Regions from separate parts of the Homo sapiens genome. Here region 2 is linked to region 1. Evidence: fine-mapped expression QTL. A gene starts in region 1. The other region holds a variant in brackets. All regions are shown on one strand. Distances are between the middles of the regions. Region 1 holds the start of GCNT2 (glucosaminyl (N-acetyl) transferase 2 (I blood group)). Region 2 overlaps C6orf52 (chromosome 6 open reading frame 52).

Region 1 (2,915 bases):
AACATGGAGAAACCCCGTCTTTAATAAAAATACAAAAAATTAGCAGGGCATGGTGGCGCATGCCTGTAATCCCAGCTACTCGGAGGCTGAGACAGGAGAATTGCTTGAACCCAGGAGGCAGAGACTGCGGTTAGCCAAGATCGTGCCATTGCCCTCCAGCCTGGGCAACAAGAGCAAAACTCGGTCTCAAAAAAAAAAAAAACGAAAAAGAAAAGAAAAATAATCATTGATTTGGGCCGGGTGTGGTGGCTCACGCCTGTAATCCTAGCACTTTGGGAGGCCAAGAGGGGTGGATCACTTGAGTCCAGGAGTTCAAGATCATCCTGGTCAACATGGTGAAACCCTTTCTGTACTAAAAATACAAAAATTACCCGGGCATAGTGGTGGATGCCTGTAGTCCCAGCTACTCAGGAGGCTGAGGCAGGAGAATTGCTTGAACCTGGGAGGCAGAGGGTGCAGTGAGCTGAGATTGTGACACTGCACTGGGTGACAGAGCAAGGCTCTGTCACAAAAAAAAAAAAAAAAAAAAAAAGTTGATTTGCTATTTCTTCAGTTTATCCTGGCTTTATGACTGGAAAAAAATTTTTTTTAACTCAGTTGGATTTTTTCTTTTTTTTTTTTTTTTTTTAAGTTGATGTCTCACTATGTTGCCCAGGCTGGTCTCAGAATTCCTGGGCTCAAACAACCCTCCCGCCTCAGCCTCCCTAGTAGCTGAAACTGCAGGTGCACACCACCATACCCTGCTTTATCCCCACTGAATTTTATAAGCTGCTTCTGACTGCAAAGTGTTTGGCAGAAGAGAGGGATATGGCTAAATGCACGGTATGACTAGCTTGTTTCCTGGGACAGGAATCAGTTCATTCCTGAAAGGGTATGTAAAGAGCCCGTTTGCCTGGCCTAGGAAAAGCCAGAGGTTCAGAGAGAGGAAGTGACTTGCTCAAGATATACAGCTTGCATTAGAGAGGAGAGAACTTGCCTTCTGAAAATGCCCAGGGCATTTTCTACTAAATTCTGCTGCCACCTTAGGATTCCCCTTCCCCAGTGTGGGTAGCATTTGAGCAGAACACATATCTAAATCTGTTAGAGGTTACCCTGGGGCAGAGACTATAAGATTTCCTACCAATAACTAAACATAAGAGTGGAACCTTAAACACGAGGGGTCTGTGAGGGAATCCAAAACTTCCCCTCTTGAAAAAGCAGCCTCTAAGGGGGCAAAATGGAGGGTAGTCTTAGGAAAACACCCAAATAATTATCCTGAGGTCTATCTTGGAGTGTCCTCATGAAAAACCCAGTTACACCCAGGGCAGTTACCTTTCTGAGCGGTTTCTTATAACATTCCTGGAGTGGAAAGTGATCAACTCAAAGCCCTCCAGGACTCTAGAGGCAGGGGATGAGCTGGTGTCAGGTAGCACCTGGTATCCAGCAGCTTAAAAAATCCAGACTCTAGGCAGGCTCTCTGTAGACGTGTGTTCTCCTGTCTCAGACTCTTAGGGCAGGCCTTGGGGGTGGGACTGAAAGCAAACAGACCTTCCCACTTTCACATTCCAGCCTCTGTTATTCCACTTAAAACGCTAGGGTTAAACTGCGTTTACCTTAAACAGGCTTACTGTGTTCACTGCTGGACGCCTCTGGGCAATCTTACCCTCCTGGGAACTGAGAGAGGTAGGTGGAGGTCAGCGTGCTGGGAAACTGGTGGAGGGAGGAAACTGCGGGGAGCTGGTCTTCTCGTGTTACCTCTGTTAAATCGCTGACAGCAGTTTAAGGTCCAATAGGCTGGTACTCAAATGGGCTGCGTGGATGTTTTATATTTCCAGAACCTAGCACAGTGCCGGGCATAAAGTAAGTACACCAAAAAATGTTGAATGAGTCATTTGGTCATGAGATTTCTGTTTTCAAAGGTTTTTTTTTTTTCAAAGAATAGCATGTTTGTATGTTGTTTCATTACATGATGGGCCTACTGGGCACGAGGGTTTTCCATCTGTCTCTAAATCATTAGTATCCTTCTGTATCTCAGTTACAACTTTTAACTTTGTAGGAAAGAACAACGTTCACTTCAGACTTAATGGTTTATGTTTCTCAGTTCCTTCAGGCAAGGGAAAATGTTTCCAGAATTTGATAAGGTACTTGGTACTGTCTGGCATTTAAATTTTTTTTTTTTTTTCCAGACATAGTCTCACTCTGTCACCCAGGCGAGAGTACGGTGGTGCGATCTCAGCTTACTGCAACCCCCACCTCCTGGGTCCTGCCTCAGCCTCCTGAGTAGCTGGGACTACAGGCATGCACAACCAAGCCCGGCTAATTTTTGTATCTTTAGTAGAGATGGGGTTTCATCATGTTGGCCAGGCTGGTCTCAAACTCCTGACTCCATGTGATCCACCTGCCTCAGCCTCCTGAAGTGCTGGGATTACAGGCGTGAGCCACCGTCCACAGCCTGAAATGTATTTTATTTAATTAGTTGCTGTGAGGTATGAACATTCCTGTGAGGTATGAACCTCATTTGATAATAGGTAAAATTGAAAATGAAGCTCTGGGCCATGTAGAAAAGTAGTAGATCCATATTGCCATTCTATGAAAACCCATCTTCTGATATTAAAGACAGGTCTACTAAGTAAATTCAGGTTTTGCCAAACTCAAAGCTACTTTTCTGTTTTCCTTATTTTTAAATGTAGGCCTTTGAGAGTCGTCACTTGTAAATAGTCTTTCTGCACCTGGTAGTAGATTGGCCAAATAGAGGGTAGTTACCTGTAGGCTGTGGTTTTCCAGAAGAAATAGGGAGACTGTAATCCCAGGCCCTGGGGACCCTACAGCGTAAAGGATCTGTTTCTTTGCACTCTGTTCTGATTGAACAGCATATTGCAATTATCGGAAGAAGGGAGGCTATATTCTTTCATGTAATTATTCTTAGTGATCAGAAG
Region 2 (2,915 bases), 170 kb after region 1:
GGTGACATCCAGGAAGGCATCATGCAGAAGAATACTGGGATCCAAGACAGAATGAGTCTAGGTCACCAATGACTAAGGACTCCTTCCACTAGCACTAGACTGGCCTACCGCTGGTTTACTTAATGTCTTGTTTAGACCACTATTGTTATGTCAGGTAAAACACAATTCCTAACTACTGTAGTTTAGACAGCCAATAAAACATGTCAGTTAAAGATTCTTTTCCTGTAAAATTTTTTTTCTCTCACTTTAGGACTGACTTTATTTTACACAAAGAAAATCACAATTATGGCTATAACCAGGTAAGCATTGAGGCTGCAGTTGGAAAGCAACGTGGAAGTTGAACATTGAGGAGGTGCTAAGGAGGCTGAGGAAGAGAGAGGTCAATGTAATCATGTTGCAACCACCTAGGAAGATGGCAGCAGCTGTGGAACAGAAGGTTGTAAGCAAGATCCCAGGGTAAAGATGGGCACTTAGGCCTTGGAGATGACAGTGACAAGGGCTCACAAGCGCTGTTTTGCTCACTAAAAGCCCCAAATGCAAACCTTCTGTTTCAACTAGATTACTCCCATGAATCAGGTGAAGCAAATTTCTATTGGGGCACACTACTGGACAGGTTCAGGGCACGTACAGCATTATCTCCACTTCCCTTCGTGCTGGAAATACAAAGGAGACCAAAACCCCCAGGAATACATTCACGTGCAACCTCCATAGTCCTTGAATTTAACAGAGTTGCTGCCTGTCACATTGAGAAAGAGGAGAATTCAGCAGGAATATGAGACTCTCATATTTCTAACAGGGCTGATTTTTCTCTACTGTGTCCTGCTTGTACCCCAGGATATCCACTTTACCACCCTCAACCACCCAAGAAGAAAAACTAGCTTTTACTTTAACAAACCGAAGCTAAGCACTCAACAAATATTTGTTGAATGAATGAATAAATCAGAGCATAGCTCAAGAGCAAAAACCTTTTCAATCAATAATTTAAAAGCAAAGCTACAAAACAATATCCTCTCGTGCTTTAGTGTTTAATGAACTCTCAACATTGGTTGTTTCTTGGCAGCTGCAGATTTCACAAGAATGAGATTAAATGGCTTTTTACATCCTGTATTTGGAAAGAGAATAGGAGGATTTACAGGAAGTTATGCTCAGTTCCAATCCAGTTAAACAGGTATATAATTCTCTTTTGTCTTTCTTCAGACAATGAAAATCCGCAATCTAAGACCTGAAACTACTGCCACAGCCATGCATAAAATGAAATGCTGCTGCTTTCCTCTCTGTTAAAGAGAATGTTCAAGGCCGAGGACACATAAAAAAGAGCAGCATTGCTGGCTCTGTTATTTAGCTGTGTGTTCTTGAAAAAGTCACTTCTCCAGACATATCTCAGCATTTATAACCTAAGACTGAATCACTGCATTTTACCCTTAATGAGGTACGCTTACACTAATCTTTTTGAAACAGTACTTAAATTGTAGCAGGACAAGCCGCAGACAAAACCCCTCAGCCA[G/C]CGAGTTTAAGAAAGAAGGGCTTTATTCGGCCGGGATCTTCGGCAAGACTCACGTCTCCAACAACCAAGCTCCCCAAGTGAGTAATTCCTGTCCCTTTTAAGGGCTTACAACTCTAAGGAGGTCCGTGTGAGAGGGTCGTGATTGACTGAGCAAGCGGGGGTACATGACTGGGGGGCTGCATGCACCGGTAATTAGAACGGAACAGAACAGGACAGGGATTTTCACAGTGCTTTTCTATACAATGTCTCTAATCTACAGATAACATAACCGATTAGGTCAGGGGTCGATCTTTACCAGGCCCAGAGTGTGGTGCCGAGCTGTCTGCTTGTGGATTTCATTTCTGCCTTTTAGTTTTTACTTCTTCTTTGGAGGCAGAAATTGGGCATAAGACAATATGAGGGGTGGTCTCCCTCCCTTAAAATCCTAATGCTCTCCTCCAAAAATGTATATCCACATATTTGCATATAATTTCATGGGATTCAAAACCCCTGAAATTTATCCAGGAACCCCCAGATTAGTAACACCTGGACTAGATGTTGTCTAAGTCCTCTGAGCTCTGTAATTGGTTCCACTGATTTCTAAGTTTTGGGGTTTTTTTTTCTTTTTAAAGTAAAACCACTTTGAGTTATGTTCATGGTGCTTACACCATGGTTTCCATTCTAGAACCAACTATATTCTAAAATTCCTGGTTGGAACAAAAGTTACTTAAGCAAGTAAAAGTGTGACAGTCTGGTAACAGATTCTAAATAATCACCTTTTTATGGTGATAAGCTAAAATTTATTTTAAAAAGTGTATTAAACAAGTATTAATACTTCTCAAACAGCAGTTGAGATGTCCCTGGGGTAAGGAGACAGGGCACCAGGGACATTCCAGAAGTAACAGAATATACAAAGCATGATTTTGAAAGTTTTAGCGGTTTTTAATTTGTGGATGAGGGTGTAACACTTTTGCATTAAAATAAACAGATATGTTGTGGAGTAAAATGCATAAAGGCACATTTTTAAAGATAAAATGTGAAACTTACAATGTCCTGCTTACTAATACCTTGTCTCACGTCCAGAGGACACTTACTTCACACTCCTCTAATCTTAGTGGTTCTCTGGTGGAAACTTACACATTACAAAAAAAGTAATCTATTCTAAATCCTAAAATAATTTGATTTTTTGTAACACAATGAAGATAACTAGCACAAAGTAAAGAAAGAATGACTTTTTTTTTGAGACAGTCTCACTCTTGCCCACGCTGGAGTGCAGTGGCGGGATCTCGGCTCACTGCAATCTCCACCTCCCTAATTCAAGCGATTCTCCCGCCTCACCCTCCCGAGTAGCTGGGACTATAGGCGCCCACCACCACACCCAGCTAATTTTTGTATTTTTAGTAGAGACGGGGTTTCACCATGTTGGCCAGGA

The links.
Region 2: its variant is fine-mapped to the expression of GCNT2 in whole blood (TOPMed, PIP 0.93).

The regions. Positions count from the first base shown.
Region 1 is chr6:10,519,756-10,522,670 of GRCh38, forward strand. It overlaps GCNT2 (glucosaminyl (N-acetyl) transferase 2 (I blood group)), which reads left to right and starts at 1,596. Exons shown (of 5, transcript NM_145649.5): 1 at 1,596-1,662. LOC101928146 (a long non-coding RNA gene) reads right to left here and starts at 1,651. Exons shown (of 3, transcript XR_001743961.2): 1 at 1,593-1,651. RefSeq lists enhancers at 1-162, 1,883-1,942.
Region 2 is chr6:10,689,739-10,692,653 of GRCh38, forward strand. All of the region lies in intron 1 of C6orf52 (chromosome 6 open reading frame 52), which reads right to left. It also overlaps a transcript of PAK1IP1 not described here. Among named protein-coding and RNA genes, the nearest start is that of C6orf52, 3.4 kb to the right of the region's middle. The variant G/C (reference allele first, on the strand shown) is at 1,505.